4 linked regions of the Homo sapiens genome follow. The protein of the gene in region 2 interacts with the protein of the main gene of each other region in a pairwise test. Each region holds a gene or a part of one and is shown on either strand. Other genes may lie near its edges.

Region 1 (7,816 bases), on a different chromosome or scaffold from region 2:
GTGGCTCATGCCTGTATTCCCAGCACTTGGGGAGGCCGAGGCGGGTGGATCACCCAAAGTCAGGAGTTCGAGACCAGCCTGGCCAACATGGCAAAACCTCGTCTTTACTAAAAACATTAAAAATTAGCTGGGCGTGGTGGCACATGCCTGTAATCCCTGCTACTCAGGAGGCTGAGGCAGGAGAATTGCTTGAACCCAGGAAGCGGAGGAGGTTGCAGTCAGCTGAGATCCCACCATTGCACTCTGGCCTGGAGCAAGACTCCATCTCAAAAAAAAAAAGAAGTAACTCTAATAGAACATCCAGTGTCCAGATATTAGCTTCTAATACCATTCTAAAGCAAAATAATCACAGTGCCTTGGAGAAATGGATCATTCCAAGGTTGGGACATGGAAAATACAAAATAAGCCTGAGCATTCTCTGATGCCAGAAATCAAGAAATGCATTAAAAAAGAAAAAGAGTCCGGGCATGATAGCTCACACCTGTAATCCCAGCACTTTGGGAGGCCGAGGCGGGCAGATCACTTGAGGCCAGGAGTTTGAGACCAGCCTGGCCAACATGGAAAACCCCGTCTCTACTAAAAAATACAAAAAGTAGCCAAGTGTGGTGCTACGTACCTGTAATCCCAGCTACTTGGTAGGCTGAGGCACAAGAATCGCTTGAGCCTGGGAGGCGGAGGGTGCAGTGAGCCGAGATCGTGCCACTGCACTCCAGCCTGGGCGACAAAGACTCCGTCTCAAAAAAAAAAAAAAAAAAAAAAGAAGGAAAAAGAAAAAGCAAGTGTATGTCAAAGTGGCACAGGCGCCAACCTGAAAAAGGTCCCAGTGGTGAAAGCCAGAACAATTTGAGCAGCAAATTAAATACTGATAATATTGGATTATAACCCATATAACAAAACAAATATCCATGAGCCCATACTGATACAAATAACTGAATCAATGAACAGGAGAGAAGGGTCAACTCTTCCCTACAGAAGGGAATTTTAATTAAAAAATGTAGAAGGAAGAAAATAGGGGTTTTGTTTAACCATTAGGAAAAAAAACCCGCTAAACAACATGTTCCACAAATGGATGCTTAAATTAATGAATAAAAGTTTAAGGAAAAATGGCAGTGCAGGTTTCTCTCCCAAGATCTCAAATACAAAGGGAATCTGGCAAACAGATTAACATCATAGGTAATAAGAAGTATCGGCTAGGGCACAGTGGCTCACGCCTGTAATCCCAGCACTTTGGGAGGCCAAGGCAGGAGGATCACTAGAGGTCAGGAGTTCGAGACCAGCCTGGCCAACATGAAACCTGTCTCTACTAAAAATACAAAAAATTATCTGGGCATGGTGGCAGGCGCCTATAATCCCAGCTACTCAGGAGGCTGAGGCAGGAGAATCGCTAGAACCTGGGAGGCAAAGGTTGCAATGAGCTGAGATCGTGCCACTGCACTCCAGTCTGGGCAATAAAGCAAGACTCAGTCTCAAAAAAAAGTATTGACATCATGTACCCAATATGACATACTGAGATGGAAACTTTACTTCTGTGACATTTTTCCCCAAAATGCAGAACATTCATCTAATCATGACACTAAACATCAAGCAAACACAAATTGAGGGGCATTCTACAAATTAACTGACCGGGTCTTCTTCACTAGTGTCAAGGTCCATGAAAAAACAATGAAAGGCTGAGGAACTGTCACAGATCAGAGAAAATTAAGGATATTTAGCAGTTAAATGCAAAGTGAGATCATCGATTGGATCCTGGGCAGAAAAAGGACAGTGGAAAGACAAGTGAAATCCAAATAAAGTCTGTAGTTTAGTTCATTGTATTATAGTAGCATGCCCATGTTATTAGTTTTGGCCCTTGTTATGCATGATATTATGGGAACTCTCTGTACTATTTTTTGCAAATTTTCAGTAACTCTCAAATTATTTCACAATTAAAAGTTATTATAAAATAAATAATAAAATAACCAACATCTTTCAATGTTTATAATGGAAGGGTAATGTTAGACTTAACATGCCATCTTTGTCGTTGAAACCTTTCTCATCAAGATCTCATCAAGATCTATACAATCCAGTCAAAGCTGTACTCTGAAAGCACTGTTTTGTAAAGAATATCAATAAAAAACATCTCTTCCTTACTACTCTGGTGTATTTATTTATGACTAGCTGACATTCAAATGATAAGAGAGCTGTAAGATCCTCCTAAAAACCAAGCTTTAGGGGATATCTCTAGGACTGAGAAGGGAGTAAGAGCACTCAACTATCCACAGAAAATTACAAAAGGGAGTTCAATAATTCTTTAGCAAACCATCCAAAGCTTTAAAGGGATTGACCAATAATTTGTCATTTACCTATTCCCAATTGTCATTGACCAATTCCTATATTGGTCAACCCCTTTAAAATATTAACATCAACAAATGTTTCCTCCACCTATAGTAACTTCTGTGCTCAGTGGGTTTTTATCCTTCCAATATCAACTTTAATTTCATACATTTGGAGAAAGGCCAAGAGTTTTTACCAACCCACACTTAACACACTATGGGACCCAGAATCAGTTTGCACCAGGGCATCATTTTCTGAAAAACCACTTTGAACTGTCAGTTTTAAACTGCATACCCACTTTCAAATGAAACTGCGAAAGGCTAAAAAACTCAGTCGTCTCGTTTGAACGGTTACCGATTTTCTAACAAATATATACACAACGCCCACCAACCTTTCCAGACACACACTCTCAGCGAAACTGGTTTTACAATTTACTCACTCAGCTTAATAGAGCTCGGTCTTAACCAAAGGCTCAGGATCTCAGGATGCGTGCGCTCGGAGGCAGCGCTTTAACAATTAAGGATGTAAATGTTGGGATGAGTCACCCGGACCTTCCAAACAAACTCTAAAGCAGCAGTTTCCACTTAACAAGACCACCAAGCATGTGCACGGTGCGTTCCTAAATCCTACCCAGTTCCTCCACAGGCTGCCTCCTTGCCGCGTCTCTCAATCTCAGTGGGAGTGGCGGGCACTGCCTCTTCCCTCCTGCGCGCCCGGAACCTTTTGAGTGGGCACAGCACGCAGCCCGCGCGCGGCACAACCCCTTCCCCCAACCACACCCGGCGCGCCCGAGCGCTCCCCTCGCGCGGCGGCCGGCGTGGGAGGCGCTGCGGCTGGAGGTCACGATGGGAGCCGGCGGGTGGCCGCCTGGGGAGACCCGGACATCCAGGGGACGAGCTCAGGCAGCGCTGACACGAACTTCCTAAGCCGCGCTTCGGGCTGTGGACCGCCAGAGCTGAACGCAGTGGCCCCTCCCCAGCGCCCCGGGTTTCCCCAGGTCGGGGTTCGCGGGCGGGGGTGAGGCGTGGCCCCGACTGCCGGGCCGCGATAAGCGCCCTGCGACCCGGCTGAAAGCGCACACGTGTCCTGCCGCGCTGAGCCGCCAGCAGGACTGGTACCACCGCCCTCCCTCGGGGCTAGGGTCACCCTGCCGTGACACGCAGGGACAAGCCAAACACTCCCGCCTCCGGGATCGAACGGAATGAACCAGAGTGATTAACTACGAGAATCACCAGGCGCTCATTGGGCTGATCAGTACCTCGTCTGACCTAGCTGGGTTTGGTCGCCGTCACTGGCCGGAGCGCCGAAGCACCGGGGACGCTGACGCACAGGTTGCCCAGTCACAAGCGCTGCTCGCACCCAGAGCAAGTTAAATGGGTGGTTTCTGGTGAATGGGATTCTGAGAAAGTGGATGCTTGCGCCCCAGGGCCTAAAAAAATCAGGCACTGAATCTAACCCAAGGAAGGAAAGGGGAGAAACTTACTGAATGAAAATATTACCATAGTTTAAATGTTATTCTTTACACTCCTGTGACTGACATACTTCTGTGCAATATTCCGATGGTGTGGAAAGGCTAGAAAGTGATTGCGCATGTTCAGGAAACGGGCCATCAGGCTTTGTGAGTGTAGCCATCCCAACATCTACCTGCTGCATCTACCCTAGGAAATTAGTACCTGCATGCAGATATTTTCTGGTTTGCATTTACAAACAAAAATCATAGTATCATTTAAGTTGTTTAAATCAACACTAGGAATAACTATTAATGGTTCACCCAATGCAGGAAAGTTTTAGCTAGGAAGCCTAGATAAGAAAATTGACTATACATAATTTTTTAAAAAGAATTTTAAATATACCATACCGCATGCTTTTTAAAAGAATTTTAAGGTATATATTCATGATGCGCCCAAACATTTGGGTAAAATTATTCTTTTGAATTAATTTCTGTCAGTTTCAAGACCCTTAAAGGCCCATATAGAAATACATGTTAGTCATACTTCATTTTAAGACAAAATTAAGGCCAGCACGGTGGCTCATGCCTGTAATCCCAGCACTTTGGGAGGCTGACGCAGGCAGATCACTTGAGGCCAGGAGTTCGAGACCAGCCTGGCCAACATGGTGAAACCCTGCCTCTACTAAAAATACAAAAGTTAGCTGGGTGTGGTGGCGAGGCTGTAATCCCAGCTACTCGCGAGGCTAAGGAACAAGAAGCGCTTGAACACAGGAGGCAGAGGTTGCAAATGACCCGAGATCCCACCACTGCACTCCAGCCTGGGCCACAGAGTGAGACTCTGTCTCAAGAAAAAAAAAAAAATTAAGATAAAGTTTTCAGACCTGGCCGTTAACGACTGTTTGCAAAAACTGAAAAATCTCCGAAAAATAAATTTTATTTTAATTTTCTTTTTAGCTCACCCAGATAAGTGAAAAGAATAAAATTTTATGATACCAGAAAAAATGAAAACATTTCCAGCAAGATCTGAAGGCACTACAGGAGGAGACTGAACAAAAATGGAGAAAACACACACGAAACTGATATGAAGCACATTTTTAAAAATGGATACTTAGTTGAATATAGCATTCTGTAATTATGCAAAGTAAAAACAAATCAAAACCCTATACATAGAGGCCAGGCACGGTGGCTCACGCCTGTAATCCTAGTACTTTGGGAGGCCGAGGCAGGTGGATCACCTGATATCAGGACTTCAAGAGCAGCCTGGCCAACATGGTGAAACCCTTCTCTACTAAAAATACAAAAATTAGCCGGGCATGGTGGCTCATGCCTGTAATCCCAGCTACCCAGGAGGCTGAGGCAGGAGAATTGCTGGAGCCAGGGAGGCAGAGGCTGCAGTGAGCCAAGATCATGTCACTGCACTCTAGCCTGGGTGACAACGTGAGACTCCATCTCAAAAAAAAAAAAAAAAAAAAAAAACCTATACATAGAAAATTGCTGGGCAAGGAGTGACAGCTCACTCCTGTAATCCCAACACTTTGGGAGGCAGAGGCCAAAGAATTGCTTGAGCCCAGGAGTTCAAGACCAGCCTGGGCAACATACTGAGACCCTATCTCTACAAAAAAAAAATATTTTAAATTACACTGGGTGTGGTGGCTTACACCTGTAATCCCAGCACTTTGGGAGGAGGCCAGAGGATTGCTTGAGCCCAAGAATTCGAGACAAGCCTAGGCAACACAGGGAGCCCCTGTCTCTACAAACAATTTTTTTTTTTAATTTTTTTTTTTTTTATTATACTCTAAGTTTTAGGGTACATGTGCACATTGTGCAGGTTAGTTACATATGTATACATGTGCCATGCTGGTGCGCTGCACCCACTAACGTGTCATCTAGCATTAGGTATATCTCCCAATGCTATCCCTCCCCCCTCCCCCGACCCCACCACAGTCCCCAGAGTGTGATATTCCCCTTCCTGTGTCCAAGTGATCTCATTGTTCAATTCCCACCTATGAGTGAGAATATGCGGTGTTTGGTTTTTTGTTCTTGCGATAGTTTACTGAGAATGATGGTTTCCAATTTCATCCATGTCCCTACAAAGGACATGAACTCATCATTTTTTATGGCTGCATAGTATTCCATGGTGTATATGTGCCACATTTTCTTAATCCAGTCTATCATTGTTGGACATTTGGGTTGGTTCCAAGTCTTTGCTATTGTGAATAGTGCCGCAATAAACATACGTGTGCATGTGTCTTTATAGCAGCATGATTTATAGTCCTTTGGGTATATACCCAGTAATGGGATGGCTGGGTCAAATGGTATTTCTAGTTCTAGATCCCTGAGGAATCGCCACACCGACTTCCACAATGGTTGAACTAGTTTACAGTCCCACCAACAGTGTAAAAGTGTTCCTATTTCTCCACATCCTCTCCAGCACCTGTTGTTTCCTGACTTTTTAATGATTGCCATTCTAACTGGTGTGAGATGATATCTCATAGTGGTTTTGATTTGCATTTCTCTGATGGCCAGTGATGATGAGCATTTCTTCATGTGTTTTTTGGCTGCATAAATGTCTTCTTTTGAGAAGTGTCTGTTCATGTCCTTCGCCCACTTTTTGATGGGGTTGTTTGTTTTTTTCTTGTAAATTTGTACAAACAATTTTTTAAAAATTAGCTGGATGTGATGGCACATGCCTGTGGACCTAGCTATTTGGGGGGCTGAGGTGGAAGGATTGCTTGAGCCCCGGGGTTCAAGGCTGCAGCGAGCCATGATCAGAGTGAGACCCCACTCTAAAGAAAAAGAGAAAGAAAGAAAATAGCAGGAAAGTGTTCATTTGTTCTGGGTAGTAACATGGAATGTCTTTTATCTTGTATTTTAGTGTAATTTTCTAAATTTTATGTAACAAATTTAGAAAATTATAAATTTTATAATGAAAAATGGATTTTAAAAGTAAAATAAACTGATAAAATATACATATAAAGACACATGACAATAGAGTCCTCACTTGAAATAGGACTAAAACTAAAAAAAAGTTTCCTTAATTTTAGTCTAATTTTAAAAATATTTTAGATTGTGATGTTTCATATTTATAGGTCGGTTTATTTGCTAACTAAAGTTACATTGGGAGGCAGTGGTAAATCAAATAAAAATTCAAAATAAAGTTTTATTAGTTCCTAACCTCATCCTAATATTTTATCAAATTCTATTTGATAAGTTCAGATTAAAGCCAGCATTTTATAAATGTATTGCACTGTATAGAAATGAGTCATTTTAACTTGTAAGTTAGCATTGTTTTTGGAGCTAGCCATAGAATTTTAGAGAAAAAGGACCTTCCTCATTAGGTCAGATGTTAGATGACTTTCCTCATTTTACAGATAAGTCACCAGTGCAAAGGAGACTGATTTGCACAAGGTTAAAGGTTAAGTGACTCACAGCCTTCCAAGCCATTGCCCTCTGCCCTCCACCACAGGACCTTTCTTTTATTTTACCAGGCAAGAGTCACTGCCCAGTATTTATAAGGCCCCATATTGAGACTCCTGCTGAATGCCTGTGCACCAGTTGCAAAGAGCTGGTAAGGCCCCAGTATGCTACATTTCTTAGTGCTTACTCCAAAGGTGAACTCCAGAATTGTCAATTTTCCCTGGCAAGGTCAGGTTTCAGACAGGATTCACCATGGGCCTGGGGACATTTGGGTTACATATATAACAGATGTATTCAGTCCGAGTATATCTATTTTCATTACCACTCCAAGTTAAGAAAATAACAGTGGAAGAGAGGCTATGTGCACAGTATTCCCCCACAGCCCAGCTCACAGCTATCAGGGCCTTTGACTAATATGGCAAGAGAAAGTTCAGTCTATAATGGTGCAAACAGTTATTGTAAATAAAATAATGGAAACAGTTTAAAACTCTTCCTAAAGATTTCAGTATAAAAGGAAGGTGAGAGAAAGGAATATAGCTAGAGGCTATCTTAGGGTTCAGAGAAAATATTCATTTGGTTTGAATTAGACAGACTAGAACATGTGTGCATGCCAAGAGGACAAGCCATAAAGAAAGA
Region 2 (2,816 bases):
TCAGGCAGAGGGTCTCTTCAGGTAACTGATGGAAACCCCTGGCCATGGGGTTATTGGTCTTAATGGGGCTATTAGTCTTCATGGGACAGTCTTTGAAATTCTGGAGAGCTTCACTCTCCAGTAGATTCTGTCACCCTTGGCTTAGAATTGTAGGTGAGTGATTTACACTTGAGCTGGCCTCATAAATCACATGGTTTGCACTTGAGCTTTCCTTGGGAGGTCAGAGGAAGGCATGTGTGAGCATATTAAGAAGAAAAGACAATCTGGCTTCTCCAAAAACTTTTTTAAAGGTACCAACAGAAACCTGATAATTCCTGGCTGTTTTGCCAGGGAGTAAAAAGTTAAAAGCTCTTTTAGCATCTTCTTTAAGGCAGCAGCTCCAAATATTTTGGTACCAGTGACCTCACTGTGGGTGGTGTTCGTGTTTGTAAGTTGGTAGGTGAATTGAATCATTTCATCATGCTCAGTGGTGTCTCATCAAAATCTCTTGTCATCATCCTTCCTATTTCTGGTGAGTGGGTGTTGTGGGAAAGGCCCCCACTATTGAAGTTTGAAAACCACAGGTTTAAGAGGGGAGTCAGTTTTTAGCTGAAAGCAGACTGGAGGACCCAGATATTAGTCAATACCTTCCTATTGAAGGGTACCCAGCACAGTGTTCTAGAAAATGCTTGGCCTCCCTGGGACCCCAGACTTGTGGGCCTCTGAGAAGCAAATGGGGAAGACCTTTGCAGTGTAAAAACAAGTTGAGTCATTCATAACCTCGTCTATCCTCCTTTCTGCAGAATGTCAGCATCTCATTAGATGGTGCTTGGCCCTGAGACCATCAGATAGGCCAACCTTCGAAGAAATCCAGAACCATCCATGGATGCAAGATGTTCTCCTGCCCCAGGAAACTGCTGAGATCCACCTCCACAGCCTGTCGCCGGGGCCCAGCAAATAGCAGCCTTTCTGGCAGGTCCTCCCCTCTCTTGTCAGATGCCCGAGGGAGGGGAAGCTTCTGTCTCCAGCTTCCCGAGTACCAGTGACACGTCTCGCCAAGCAGGACAGTGCTTGATACAGGAACAACATTTACAACTCATTCCAGATCCCAGGCCCCTGGAGGCTGCCTCCCAACAGTGGGGAAGAGTGACTCTCCAGGGGTCCTAGGCCTCAACTCCTCCCATAGATACTCTCTTCTTCTCATAGGTGTCCAGCATTGCTGGACTCTGAAATATCCCGGGGGTGGGGGGTGGGGGTGGGTCAGAACCCTGCCATGGAACTGTTTCCTTCATCATGAGTTCTGCTGAATGCCGCGATGGGTCAGGTAGGGGGGAAACAGGTTGGGATGGGATAGGACTAGCACCATTTTAAGTCCCTGTCACCTCTTCCGACTCTTTCTGAGTGCCTTCTGTGGGGACTCCGGCTGTGCTGGGAGAAATACTTGAACTTGCCTCTTTTACCTGCTGCTTCTCCAAAAATCTGCCTGGGTTTTGTTCCCTATTTTTCTCTCCTGTCCTCCCTCACCCCCTCCTTCATATGAAAGGTGCCATGGAAGAGGCTACAGGGCCAAACGCTGAGCCACCTGCCCTTTTTTCTGCCTCCTTTAGTAAAACTCCGAGTGAACTGGTCTTCCTTTTTGGTTTTTACTTAACTGTTTCAAAGCCAAGACCTCACACACACAAAAAATGCACAAACAATGCAATCAACAGAAAAGCTGTAAATGTGTGTACAGTTGGCATGGTAGTATACAAAAAGATTGTAGTGGATCTAATTTTTAAGAAATTTTGCCTTTAAGTTATTTTACCTGTTTTTGTTTCTTGTTTTGAAAGATGCGCATTCTAACCTGGAGGTCAATGTTATGTATTTATTTATTTATTTATTTGGTTCCCTTCCTATTCCAAGCTTCCATAGCTGCTGCCCTAGTTTTCTTTCCTCCTTTCCTCCTCTGACTTGGGGACCTTTTGGGGGAGGGCTGCGACGCTTGCTCTGTTTGTGGGGTGACGGGACTCAGGCGGGACAGTGCTGCAGCTCCCTGGCTTCTGTGGGGCCCCTCACCTACTTACCCAGGTGGGTCCCGGCTCTGTGGGTGATGGGGAGGGGCATTGCTGACTGTGTATATAGGATAATTATGAAAAGCAGTTCTGGATGGTGTGCCTTCCAGATCCTCTCTGGGGCTGTGTTTTGAGCAGCAGGTAGCCTGCTGGTTTTATCTGAGTGAAATACTGTACAGGGGAATAAAAGAGATCTTATTTTTTTTTTTATACTTGGCGTTTTTTGAATAAAAACCTTTTGTCTTAACTCGTGGCTTCTAATCGTCTGTGCGGAGGCATTGCTAACCTGCATTTATTGAGCATTTGGTAAGTGCCAAAGAATTGTAGGAGAAAGGAATTCTCAGCCTAAATCTGGCTTCCTTCAACATTGGGATTTCTAGGATAGTCATCTTCCTGAAACGAATGTATGGTCAAGGGGTAGGACCAGTATTGTCAAAATTTGGGCAATATCTGGCATGGGAGGCCTAATAAAATAACCTTTTCCAGATTACAATTTTAAAGCTATGCAAATAGGATAGATGTGACAATTTTCAAGTGTTCAATAGCCATTTATGGCTAGTGGCCACCTCATATAAAACATCATTGCAGAAAGTTCTATTGGATGGGGCTGATCTAGAGATAACAAATACATACCTATTACCAAACTAACCCTTGAAGCTTTTATCAGTTGTCTGCCACTGATAGTAAAACATTTTGAGCATGTCCCCTTGGTACACGTGAAGTTTATTGAAAAACTATTGCCTCTATTACTCTCGGTTCCTGATTCAAGTTTCCTTCACCTTTAGT
Region 3 (7,039 bases), on a different chromosome or scaffold from region 2:
CCACTTTAAACTGCTCAAAACTGGAGGGAGCTGTCATAATTTTTCCTAAATACATAAACTGCAAAATGAGATCAAAACATTCTGCACTAATTTTCATGTTGCTGAGATTCAGTTGTGCAGTACTATGCTGATGGTTCATGAAAAACATTCTAAAATAGGAGCTACAGGCAGCTAGAACTGCCTTGTGTGCTTGAAAGTAAATGTCATCAATTGCAATACAGCAGTCACAGAGAAAACCCCATTCTCTTTGGTTGTTTAGCTGCTGAAGGACATAGCTGCTGTGGCTGGGCTTTGCCATCTTCTGTTAATTAGAGACCTATGTAAAACAAAAATATTAAAGTCAAACAAGATATAGAAAAGCACTTGACAAAATTAACTTTTATCATGATTTGTGACTTGCATGACTGCTATTACAATCAAGAAATTAAGAGCTTTCCATTCTAATAAAACTCAATAATATATACTTGAATCATTTTTTAAATTTGAAGATGAAGACATCCAGCCATTTATTCAGGCTTTTCATATTGAACAAAGGCATCAAAAGCAAAAGACAGTTTTAGTTTCATTACAACTCTTGGGGGGAACATGTACACTAAATTTGAACAGAAAAAAAGACATTAATTTAAAAATACTTGAAGGAGGCCGAGTGCAGTGGCTCACGCCTGTAATCCTAACACTTTGGGAGACCGAGGCAGGAGGATTGCTTGAGCTCGGGAGTTTGAGACCAGCCTGGGCAATAGTGTGAGACCTCTTCTCTACAAAAAAGTTTAAAAAATTAACCAGGTGTGGTGGCATCACCTGTAGTCCCAGTTACTTGGGAGGCTAAAGTGGGTGGATCACTTGAGCCCGACAGGTAGAGGCTGTAGTGAGTTGCGTCACGCCACTGCACTCCAGTCTGGATGACAGAGCAAGACTCTGTCTCAAAAGAAAAAAAAAAAAAGAAAACAACTCTTGAAGGATATGAGTAATGAAAGTAAATAAAACAGCAACTTAAACTGAAAGTTAACAATTAGATTGTAAAGTATGAAAAACTTATTAAATGATTAATACTAAGGAGCTATTGCTCATTTTTTAAGTGTGAGAAAGGTATTTTGATTGTGTTAAAAAGAATCCTTATCTTTTGGATATATATACTTTAGTATTTACAGATGAAATGATACATCTGAGATATGCTTAAAAATAAATGGGGTGGGTGTGGGGAGCAATAGATGATACAAGATTGGCCATGTGTTGTTAAAATAATCTATTTTAAAAACCCTATTAAGCCTGGGCAACATAGCAAGATCTCGCCTTAAAAACAAAACAAAACAAAACAAAAAAACATTAGCCAGGCATGATGATGCACCTGCAGTCCCAACTACTCGGGAGACTGATGCAGGAGGATGGCTTGAGCCCAGGATTTTGAGGTTGTGGTGAGCCATGATCACGCCACTGTACTCTAGCTTGTGTGACAGAGTGAGACTCTATCCCAAAAATAAAAATTTAAAAAAACCTTATTAGGGCTGGGTGTGGTGGCTCACACCTGTAATCCCAGCACTTTGGGAGGCCGAGGCGGGCGGATCACGAGGTCAGGAGATCGAAACCATCCTGGCTAACACAGTGAAACCTTGTCTCTACTAAAAATACAAAAAAAATTAGCCAGGCGTGGTGGTGGGCGCCTGTATTCCCAGCTACTCAGGAGGCTGAGGCGGGAGACTGGCATGAACCTGGGAGGCGGAGCTTGCAGTGAGCCGAGATCGCACCACTGCACTCCAGCCTGGGCGACAGAGCGAGACTCCGTTTCAAAACAACAACAACAACAACAACAACAACAACCTTATTAGATTATATAGAAATGGCACCAAACAAGTTTGATCAGTGCCTTTGTCTTTTCTTGAATTATCAAAGAAGCAATAATTCTATAGAGTTAGAATGTGTCTCATGTTGCTCAACATGCATTTCAGGGTATAAAGAAGCAGTGGGTTTATTTGAGAAGGTATTTTATTTATCCTTAGAGTGTAAAGTTTTCTTCCTTTTTTTTTTTTTGAGGCAGGGTCTCGCTCTGTTACCTAGGCTGGAGTGCAGTGGCATGATCATAGCTAACTGCAGCCTCAATCTCCCATGCTCAAGCAATCCTCCCGCCACAGCATCCAGAGTAGCTGGGACTGTAGGCACATGCCACCACATTCAGTTTTTTTTTGTTTTTTTTTTTTTAATATTTTAGTAAAGACAAGGTCTTGCTATGTTGTCCAGGCTGGTCTTGAACTCCTGAGTTCAAGCGATCCTCCTGCCTCGGGCTTCCAAAGTGCTGGGATTGTGGGTGTGAGCCACTGCACCTGGCCTCTTCTATTTTTTTTTTTTTTTAATTGTTAAAAGAAAAAAGTAAGGCTGAGCGCGGTGGCTCATGCCTGTAATCCCAGCACTTTGGAAGGGTGAGGCTGAGGTCAGGAGTTCGAGACCAGCCTGGCCAACACGGTGAAAACCTGTCTCTACTAAAAATAAAAAAAGTTAGCCAGTCGTGATAGCGGGCGCCTGTAATCCCAGCTACTCGGGAGGCTGAGGCGGGAGAATCGCTTGAACCCAGAAGGCGGAGGTTGCAGGGAGCAGAGATTGTGCCACTACACTCCAGCCTGGGTGACAAGAACGAGACTCCATCTCAAAAAAAAAAAAAAAAGTAGCAAAAAATTCAAACATAGAGGCATATAGAATAAAAACACACCTCAGATCACACACCTCTTTTCAGAGGTAACCCCTCCAAACACTCTGGATTATATACCTTCAGATTTGTTGAGATGCACATGTACATAGTTAGCATATTGAGTACCTATGAGATGCCAGGCACATAGTTTTGCTTTTGTTGTGTTTTTTAACCTAAATGGTATCATACTATATATATATATATATATATATATATATATACCTCTCTGCAACTAGTTTTCTTCATTTAACATTAGACAATATTAGTGGGCATTTAAGTATTTTTAGTGTAGGGAGCTGACTTTGGATAAGGAAGAAAGGAGAGGAAGTATTAAAAGCACTAGAAATCCTATCATATTATAAAGTTAAAATAAGATCAAATTTTAGCCTCAATTTTTAATCCGTATACATAAAGCTTCAGAATCTATCTTCTACTTAAAAATAAGTTCCTATGCAATTTGACTGAACTTAAAAAGAACATGTAACAAGCTGTTTAGAGAAATAAAATGTTCACTCTTCAAGCTCTGTAGTAGTAATTAAGGGTATCTACGTTTACGTACTTCTATTTGCTTTTTATCCATTCCTCAGCGATCACATATGGGTCATACGCCCCTTTTACTACCTATATGCCCATCCTGCCACCTCTAAGACATAAAGTTCCATAGCCAGAGATACAGGACTGGTGAAATGAAGATGGCTTATGATGAAACCTGCTGCCTTCTTAAAATTGCAACCACTGCACCTTTTCTGGAAGCCAGATCAAGTTTCAAGTAAGTACAATATTTCAAACCTCTGTAACTCAGGTATCTGTAAAAAGCTGTGAGGAATCATGTTCAGTATGTATCTAAATACAAAAAGCAATGTATGCACAAAGATAGTCATTAATGAGTTACTTCTCATTTGAATGCCTAGTAAAAAAAGGAGTCTTAAGGTAAATCTACGCCCCAGAATTCACTGTCATGTGGCAGTGAATTAAAAATTGTATTTCTGGGCCAGGCGCAGTGGCTCATGCCTGTAATCCCAGCACTTTGGGAGGCCAAGGTGGGCGGATTACCTGAGGTCAGGAGTTCAAGATCAGCCTGGCCAACATGGTGAAACCCCATCTCTACTAAAAAATATATAAAAATTAGCCGGGCGTGGTGGCACATGCCTGTAAACCCAGCTACTCGGGAGGCTGAGGCAAGAGAATTGCTTGCGCCTGGGAGAGGGAGGTTGCAGTGAGCCGAGATCATGCCACTGTACTCCAGCCTGGCTGAGGGAGGTTGCAGTGAGTCGAGATCATGCCACTGTACTCCAGCCTGGCTGACAGAGCAAGACTGTCTCAAAAAAAAAAAAAAAAAAAAAATATATATATATATATATATATATATTTCTAAATGGCAACTACAGAAGTGGGAAAAATGTTCAAGATGGAGAGCCAAATAAATAAACACAGGATACATAATTATGTTAGAATTATATAAAACAAATCCACGCCACAACCTTATTCAAAAGGTGGGGGGAAAAAAGATGAAAAAAATACACAAAAATGTTGACCCAAGCCCGTTTTAAGTAGGATGAAATTTCTATGTCTATAGTCATTTTTCTAGGATTCAGAGAGACATTTAATAAATAATAAACTATAGAGTAAGAGGCAGAGGGATAGGTATTATTTCTAAAAAACCAAACTTTCTATTAATAAGAGTAATTCAAGAATGAAACAAACTTGTTTGGAGAATGAGTACCCATATTAAAGCAGGAACAGAATGCTATTGAGGACAGTATAATAAGTGAAAAGAGCATGGGCCTAGGATCAGACAGACCTGGCTTCTTATCTAGCTTTGCCACTTTTGGGAACTTGCTTATCCTCATTGACCCTAAGTTTCCTGAACTGAAAAGGTAGGGATAATACCTCAAATACAGTATCATATATGAGGATTCACAGAGGCAATGTGTAAAATGCATCGTGCTTGGCATGTAATAATGAAAGTAATAGTGGATGTTGTAATGGTGGTGATGCTTATTTAAGCATCAGGTAAGTTTGAGTTGATAACCTTAAAATTTCCTTCCAAATAACAGTCCATTAGAAAGCCAGTAGTTAATCTATAAAAACTTTCAAGTATTAAATAGTCCAGGCTTGAAATAATGATATAAAGAGCACAGAAGTTCCAAAGACCCTTTCTTATCTAGATGAGCAGCAGTTTTATCATCAGCAACCAAAATTAATACAACTACATAGAAGATCAATATGATAGGCACATCTATAGCTATAGTCACAATTCAACTGAGTAAAAATACATATTCTTTTATTAACATAAAACACTAAAACATTTAAATAAGAGCACTTATAGCATTTTAATGCACATTTATTCATTCAACAAACATTTACTGACTACCTTTGGTATACCAGGCACTGTATAAAGTGTTGATCATCAGCAGTAGCACAAGTATTCTGTATTCATTTGAGGAATTTTTACTTTTCCTAGATCAGTGATTTCATTCAACACGTATTCTGCAAAGCGCCCACTCTACAGAAGAAGGCATCATGCTGTAGTAGAAAGAACAAGTGCTCTCAGTCAGACGGATCACAGTGTGAATCCCACTGCATCCATGTTTATACTCCTATATTCCCCCTATAGAGCTGGAAGCTGAACAAATGGAAGCTGAACAAATGCTGTGTCTAATTTTTAATCCTAACACAACAGTTTTTAGGCTGACCTAGAATTGTAGTTTAAGTAACATTATTATGCAAATGTCCAAGTTCTGAGTAAAACTGATTTTAGGCACAGTAACTTATAATAGCAATCATTGACACATTAGTACCAGAAACTCTGTCCTTGTTACACCTCATTCAGAAAAGCTTTTTTCTTAAATTTTAATTATTATTTTTTTGAGACAGGGTCTTACTCTGTTACCCAGGCTGGCATGCCATCATAGCTCAGAATGTCCTCAATAGCATTCTGTTCCTGCTTTAATATGGGTACTCATTCTCCAAGCAATCCTTCCACCTCACACCTTCTGAATAGCTAGCACTACAGGCATACGCCACCATGACTGGCTAATTTTTGTATATTTTTTGTAGTGATGAGGTCTTGCTATGTTGCCCAGGCTGGTCTCGAATTCCTGGGCTCAAGCAATCCTCCCACCTCAGCCTCCCAAAGTGCTGAGATTACAGGTATAAACCACTGTGCCTAGCCCAGAAAAGCTTTAAGAAGGATTACTACACCAAAAACAGGTAGAGGAGTATGCGGCAGGGGAGGAGGGATCTAAATTCCTGTGAGACTTTTAGCTTATCTCTTGAAGATAATTTTTTCATTAAAAATTTTTGAGGCCGGGCACCGTGGCTCACGCCTGTAATCCCAGCACTTTGGGAGGCGGAGGCGGGTGGATCACAAGGTCAGGAAATCGAGCCATCCTGGCTAACACAGTGAAACCCTGTCTCTACTAAAAATACAAAAAATTAGCCGGGCGTGGTGGCAGGCACCTGTATTCCCAGCTACTTGGGAGGCTGAGGCGGGAGAATGGCGGGAACTCGGGAGGCGGAGCTTACAGTGAGCCAAGACTGTGCCACTGCACTCCAGCCTGGGCGACAGAGCAAGACTCCATCTCAAAAAAAAAAAAAAAAAATTATGAGGCATTCACTTTCATTAAATTATAATTTCACTCAAATTCCAAGAGGAGTTTGCTCTTTTTTCATTTTTTTGACCTCTTTATTAATGCTGCCAAAAAAAGTTAATGAACTTTATGTTCTAGTAAAGCCTATAAAAGGTTTTAAGTAAATGGACAGCTTGTATTTCAGCTGTTCTTGTTTTTACGACTGAAATCTGTGATTGCTTTTGTTTGTACTACTAGCTGCATCACTGGTAGGACAAGTTTAGCACAACTAGAAGTCAAGGGCTCAGGTCTGAGAGCAGAACCTCCAATGTGACTCAAAGGACTTAATGTCATTTGGATAAGGAAAACAAGCTATATAATGCCAAGAGTTACACTAAGGCTAGAAGGATACCCACTGTGCAGAACTCTAGCAAGAATTAAGGAGTTAGGTGATCCAAAAAGTTTTATACTGGATTTTTAAAATTTTAGTCTGAAAAAGTTTAACGGCTCATCTCAAGTTTAAAAACAGTCACCAAGCACATTAAGCATATTAAGTAATTTAATCATACATTTTTAGAGCTTAGAGAGATCTAATCTAGTCTAACATTCTTATTCCATAGAAGGCAAAGATACATGGTTTTTAATGTATCAGGGTATAGTTAACTGTGCTGAAGCACATACTAGGACTAAGGACTCCTGACCACCCAGATAGTAATAACCTCTATATATGGCACTTCCTTGGTACTATACAGTATGGTCTTCCGGAAAGAACACTAAACAAGGACAGGGC
Region 4 (7,039 bases), on a different chromosome or scaffold from region 2:
GAGCTATGCTCACTCTACTGCACTCCAGCCTGGGTGACAGAGTGAAGCACAATCTCTAAACACACACACACACACACACACACACACACACACACACACACACACGCATGCACACACACAGATATATATAAAAGTATACTGTCATTTAAAAAGATACATTATTTATATATTTTGACGTTTACTATGCAAAATATAAAGTACTTACGAAAGAAGTAGGATGAATGGTATAATAAACACTTATGTACCTGTCACCTGAATTCAAATAGTTTACATAATTATCAACATGTAGCCAATCACGTTTCATCTATAACTCTACCTTTCTGAGGCAGACTTCAGACTTCAGTATATATAGAACATAAATTCATAAAGGCAAGTATTAGATTGGGAAAATCCCTTATACAATGAACGTGTATTAAAAACACTTCTTCCTTACTACTTAAAAATATATTAAATTATACTTAGCACCCAGATCTCAGTTTCTAAATATCATTTTCCAATAAGAATTCTCCAACAGTTCCTTGAAAAATGGCTGTTTCTAGGGCTGGGGCAGAAACAATACAAGACAATGAGCTTGGAGCATCTTAAAGTACCAGGAAGTCGGAACACACTTCAGAAAAGTAAAAGGATGGTGGCATGCCTAAAAGGACACAAGAGCCAAATGAATTGGGTTCCCAGAGCTGAAAGAATTTAAGCAACAATATAAACAAAAGTATGGGATCATAACCTGAAGAATAAAATAAATAACCATCAGTCCATACTGATATACCCAAATAACTGAATAAATAAATAAATGGGACAGAGAGAACAAATCTTCCTTGCAGAAAAATTCAACTAACAAGTGTAGAATGAATAAAGAAAACTGAAAATCACTATTAAAACACCATGGAAGTAATTGCTGTAGATAAGATTCCCTGATGAATGCTAAAAATAGTAGGAAAAAGTTTAAGGAAAAAGAAGATGTTTGCCTAGCCTCAAGGTAGCGCGCTATTAATTACTACAGTGATTTTAATGTAAGCCCAAAAACTTTTTGATACTCCTCCCTCTAGAAACTGAAATACAGTGCCTGGAATGCAGGCAGGGTTTAGTGACCTATTTCTAATGAACAGGGTATAGAAGAGGAAAAATTATAATTTTACCATGGAGAAACCTGGCAAGTACCAGCTTAACCAAGTGATTAAGGTTAACATCACCAGTAAAAGTCATGTTGCTATCATGAACCCCTGATATGATGCAATGAGAAGGGCCCTTTATTTCTGTGATAGTTTTCTCAAAAATTCAAAAGTCTCAATCTAATGAGAAAACGTCAGACACACCAGAATTGAGGGACATTCTACAAAATACCTGACCACTGCTTTCAAAGTGTCAAGGTCACTGCTATGTGAAATCCTAACCCCTAGGGTAATAGTATTAGGAGATGCGGCCTTTGCAAGGTGATTAGTTCATAGGGCAAAGCTCTCATGAACGGAATTAGTGTCCTTACGAAGAGACCCCAGAGAGCTCCCTTGTCCCTTCTACCATGTGAGGACACAGAAAAGATGGCCATCTACAAACCAAAAAGTGGGCCCCCACCAAGCCAATGAATTGGCCAGTGGCCTGACCTCGGACTTCTAGCTGCCAGAACTGTGACAAATTAACTTCTTCTATTGTTTATAAGCCAGTCAGTCTATTGTATTTTATTACTGCAGCCCCAAAGGACTGAGACAATCGCAAAAGACCAAGAAACTGTCACAGATTAGAAGAAACCAAGGGGACATGTGACTAAATGTAATGTATAGCATTGATTGGATCCTGAAAAAGAACATGAGTGGAAAAACTGAGGAAAGCCTCAGTTTTTTGTTTTTTTTTTAAAGTCTGTTGTTTAGCTAAGAGTACTGTATCTATGTTAATTTCTTAGTTTTGATAAATGTACCATGGTTACATAAGATGTTAACAATAAGGGAAGCTGAGTGAAGGGATATAGAAACTATTTGAACTATCTTTGCAATTCTCTTATAAATCTAAAATTATTTCAAAATAGAGTTTTAAACAATAAAAAAATACATACACTAAATTCAGGTGTCCTAAAAATAATTTTTATAAGGATTGAAACATAAAACCAAGATTCCTTCAAGAAATAAGAACCATAAGAAGCCTTATCCATTAAATAATGAACACTTCTTGTCAAAAAGTGAATGCTTGTTTTACAAGAACAATCTCAGGTATGCTTTTCAATTTATAACCAAAAAACAGCAAAGCTCACATACTGACCTGGCTTTTATTAACATGATCGTTGGGATGCACAGGTATCTTGCTGCCAAGTTCACCTCCTAACATTTCAATTGCTCTATTGCTAATGACTTCATTTACATTCATATTTGTCTGAGTTCCTGATCCAGTCTGCCATACCACGAGAGGAAAATGATCATTTAATTTACCTTCAGCTACCTGCAGAAAAAATGTTAAAAATGTATTTTAAAAAAGGAAATAATAATGCTGATTATGCCACAGAGTTTGAATACAGTTGACCCACATATCTAAGCTTCTGAAGCATCACTTGCTCCAACCACAGATACTTTAAAAAGTGAAATATTATCTATAGTGAATGGTATGACAATTCACTGGTTTCAAATGAAAAGGGAATCAAAGGTATCTTTCTTATCTCTCTCCCACAGCCTCCTCTAACAGAGGACCACCTGTTAAGGCTGGCAAATACGTTTAGTCTCTAGATATATTTGTTGCTGGTGCTCAGCAGGAATATCCAACAGATGTTATTGCCAGAGTCAGCATGCTAATGAGCTAGTAACTTGAAAATGTGAGTTCACTAATAGCTACTTCATTGCACAGATGTCCAATGAGCAGTAATCACCAAATGTAGAAATAAACGCTGCCCAGATTTGCCCCTATTTTTGTTGTATTTTTATACATCCAGCTTATGTGTTAGTTTTTGGATGGTGTGCTTTGTAAAATATGGGTGGTTAACAATCTTCTGGAATGATTTTAGCTTAAAAAATCAGAATGCACTTGAGAAATCTATTACCTTGAACAACTGGTCCACTTTAAAATAAAACTTTTTTCTGGTTATATAAAAATATGTGATTAGTGTAGAAAATTTTGAGAACTGAGAAAAGTAAAACAGTCACTATAGTTCTATTGCTCAGTAATTATGACTATTAGCATGTTGGCATCCCCAGTCTCTATCTCATGCAATGAGGGTGTGTGTGTGTGTGTGTGTGTGTGTGTATATGAGAAACACACACTTTCTGTTCATTTTTTCCTAAACAAAATTAGGATCGTAAAATACATATATTTTTGCAAACTTTCCTCCCTATTTCTCATAGGCTAGGCTTTGTGCATGCCAATCTTCAAAAAAGTAATTTTCTATAATTTACCATATAAATATAATTTATATAAGTAGCTGTTATAGTTACGCATTGTCTAATTTGTTTTCATTATTATAAATAGTGCTGTAATTAACAACACTATATATACAGTTCTGTTACCTCTGATTGCTTCTTTAAGACAATGTTATTAGCATATTAGTAAAATTACATTCTCAATATGCATTATCAAATAATCAACTGGTTTTAAAAAGATTTATATATAAAATAAAAAATCAAGTAAAGTTCAAATGATATCTTTTCAAAAAATTTTCTTAAAACTATATAAATTAAGGAAAGTCAAAAGGCTTAAAAACAAAAGGTATAAAATCATCCAGAAATTTTGTCACAATGTAACGTTTTAAGCACCATATTAATATCACCACTAAAAATAATGCTACCACCCTCCCCTGAAATTCATTAATTCAAGAATTCACAGTTCCCCTTTCCTTCTGCCAGAGCATATCGTCATCCAGAGTATGGCATGGGTCTGAGGTTATTAAGCAAACACACTTATCACCTCCTACCTCATCTGCTGCCTTCATTATTGCATTAGCAATCTTTGGATCAAGACCATAATCCTGGTTTACTTCAGCGGCCGCTCGCTTCAAGATGCCAAAAGCTTTAATAACTGGGGTCTAAAATTAATCAGAAAAATATTTCAAATTTACAATTTTACTTAAGCATGGAAGTTTATTATTTTGGCAGATGCAAAAGCTATACATAAAACAATAACAATAAAACAGTAACACTATAGCTCTAAAATGTTTCGGTTATAGAGAAAGATTATAGACAGGAATTCATGAACCAAGAATCAACATTATCATAGATCTATTTGTTTAAGGAACCAAATAAAAACAAATACATTGACTCTTCATATATATATGTGTGTACGTCTCCCACATACATATACACACATATTCACACGAATACAATCCTATGCACAAATACACACAATAAATTATATGTGTTTATTTCATATACTATAAATAAAAACAAATTTAGTACTCAATCTTTTCACCAGCAAGAACCATTATTTTCTCTTACTGGATCCCACGTTACATTATAATTGTTTCCTTCCCCTCTTAAAAAAATAAATAAATAAGGGATATATTTAACTGCCAATCAGTATGAGACTACCAGTGACTGACTGGGTTATCATTTCACCCCAAGGCCAAAAAGCAATCTATTCTACTTAGCTAGTAAAGCCTTAATACTCAGTAACTCCCTGGACATTTCTCTCAGAAGAATTATTTTTTTAAACCCAAGATTCTCCAGACCTAAAGGTGACAGCTTCCGATATATATAAAACCCCATTAATGCAGATATTTTCATTGTCTATCCCAAATCACCTCACCAAGCTTGAAAAGGATAAACTGAAATGAAAACCTAGTTTTTATAAGACAAGTGAATTGTGAGTTCTTGTCAAAATTAATAATACAGATTGTTGTATAGATCCCACACCAGGTTTGAATGGGGAAAGAGTAGAAGGGAGAAAGGGAAGAAAGGAAGAGAATGATGAATGTATAAGAGAGAACCTGCTATCTCTGGAATCAAAGTAGAAAAAGCCAAGAAAAGTAAGAAATAAGACACATTAAAAACATAAACCTGGACCAGAGTAAGTATAAGCTGAGGGTCAAATAGAAAAGGAAAACCAGAAAATTTGAAATTTCAATTTTAAGTAACTAAAATTAAAACATTAGAAACGTTTGACTCAAACGAAATGAGGACAGATGGCACACAGGATTAGAAACTTAAAAACTTTAAACACAAAAACAAATGGGAATTTAAATCTCCACAGTAACAAACACTGAGGTAGTGGGCTGAACCACTACCAAGGGCAAAGGTGAATGCCAATCAACGCTGGCCATCTGAATGGAGTGAATGACCCCCAGTGTTTATGGACCATAAAAATAAAAAAGGGTCATTCACAGCAGAAAGAGGTTCAACGAACACCATAAAATGGCAAAATGTATCACTAGAGAGAAAAGACAGGTCACTTTATTCTTAATTTATTCACATTAGATGTTCATAATCTTTTTAGCTTTGTTTTCCTCTGGACCTCAAGTAAAAAGGGTTGAGTTTAATCATACTACTCAGTTTAGAGTACATACAGACTGTTTTACACATAATAAAGTTCAGAAAGTATGACAAAATCGAGACCCCAGGTGTCTGCCTTTCACAGGTGTGCAATCCCAATGGCTGTGCTGTCTCTGGAGCAGCAGCAGCAGGAACCATGCCCCACCAGAACCACAAAACATGCTGGTGACACAGATCAATGAAAACGGCAGCCATGCTCACTCCCACCAACACTAGCTGGGGCTGACCTCCTCCTTAGTCTCTGGAGTTGAATAATATGAGATTATTTTAGGATTGGTCACTACCCTTTTTCACCTAACCACGTAGTCAAACTATGTTTACCTCACCACCAAGAAGGCTGTAGATGGCAATGACAAAGATATTCTCATCAAAGATTCAGCTGCCTGTTGTAAAGTTCTATATACCTGTCAAGAGGCAGTCTTGAAGGCTTAGGAATGACTTAAAATTATTGAAAATAAAAGCATATTTATAAGATAAGTGTTAAACAATATCTCACAGGATGAAGCCTATCTACTTCTAGGCTTACTAGCCTATCCTGCATTGACTATTTTTCATACTCCGGTTGGGCTCCCGTAGAATATGTTATGCATTTCTCAATTCTTTTCACACTTTAACATCTCTGAAATCAAGATGTATCTTGTAATCAATGGTAAGTCACAACCTTAATTGGTAGCATTTTTCTTTCTTAGTGGTGCCTATTGGTGCATCTTCTAATTAATGGCATCTTAAATTTAATTGAATGTGGTAGAAAGTTTTCTCATCATTTAATCATTCATATGGAATTGAATAAATACTTATATATTATCTATTATATGTCAGACATGGTTAAGAGTAATACTTTGATGTGTTTGTGTACTATACACTTTTTAGGAAACTGAAACCAAAATACAAAGTGTAATTTTAAAAAATCTCAGTTTTAAATTAGTGGGGGAAAAAAGAATGAGTATTGAAATAAAAATATTTACAAACTGTAGAACCCTAGTAAAAATCTGTAAATACCCAGCAAGAGTGAAAAGACAATCATTTAGTTCTGCCAAATAAAAATCCAAAATAACTATTCACAATAGCAAAGACATGAAATCAACCCAAATGTCCATCAATAAAGGATAAAGAAAAAGTTGTATATATCCACCATGGAATATTATGCAACCATAAAAAAGAATGAGATCATGTCCTTTGCAGAGATATGGATGGAGCTAGAAGCTGTGACCCTCAGCATACTAACAGAGGAACAGAAAACCAAACCCGCATGTTCTCACTTGTAAGTGGGAGCTGAACAATGAGAACATATGGACACAAGGAGGGGAACAAAGCACACAGGGGCCTGTGGGCGGAGGGGGAGCAGCAGAAAAAATAGCTAATGCCGGGTTTTAATATCTAGGTGATGGGTTGAGAGGTGCAGCAAACCACCATGGCACACATTTACCTATGCAACAAAACTGCATATCCTGCATGTGTATCCCGGAACTTAAAATTAAATTAATTTTTTTTTTTTTGAGACGGAGTCTCACTCTGTCGCCAGGCTGGAGTGCAGTGGTGCGATCTCAGCTCACTGCAACCTCCGCCTCCCGGGTTCAAGCAAT

What was found.
Region 1: the proteins of PIM1 (region 2) and ABCG2 interact in binary tests that used the Homo sapiens proteins (3 or more experiments, as listed by UniProt).
Region 3: the proteins of PIM1 (region 2) and ZBTB1 interact in binary tests that used the Homo sapiens proteins (3 or more experiments, as listed by UniProt).
Region 4: the proteins of PIM1 (region 2) and FH interact in binary tests that used the Homo sapiens proteins (3 or more experiments, as listed by UniProt).

What each region holds. Positions count from the first base shown.
Region 1 is NC_000004.12:88,155,634-88,163,449, forward strand, and holds the start of ABCG2 (broad substrate specificity ATP-binding cassette transporter ABCG2), read right to left. Parts: upstream 2,940-7,816; 5' UTR 2,753-2,939; intron 1-2,752. Other genes in the region: uncharacterized protein LOC124900867, read right to left, coding at 2,940-3,449, 3,837-3,923.
Region 2 is NC_000006.12:37,173,152-37,175,967, forward strand, and holds the end of PIM1 (serine/threonine-protein kinase pim-1), read left to right. Parts: coding exon 1-21; intron 22-782; coding exon 783-940; 3' UTR 941-2,277; downstream 2,278-2,816. UniProt on the Homo sapiens protein: Proto-oncogene with serine/threonine kinase activity involved in cell survival and cell proliferation and thus providing a selective advantage in tumorigenesis.
Region 3 is NC_000014.9:64,514,764-64,521,802, reverse strand, and holds part of ZBTB1 (zinc finger and BTB domain-containing protein 1), read right to left. Parts: intron 5,204-7,039; exon of another isoform or gene 5,052-5,203; intron 3,447-5,051; exon of another isoform or gene 3,265-3,446; intron 317-3,264; 5' UTR 299-316; coding exon 1-298.
Region 4 is NC_000001.11:241,509,720-241,516,758, forward strand, and holds part of FH (fumarate hydratase, mitochondrial), read right to left. Parts: intron 3,995-7,039; coding exon 3,884-3,994; intron 2,425-3,883; coding exon 2,248-2,424; intron 1-2,247. UniProt on the Homo sapiens protein: Catalyzes the reversible stereospecific interconversion of fumarate to L-malate. Experiments in other species have demonstrated that specific isoforms of this protein act in defined pathways and favor one direction over the other.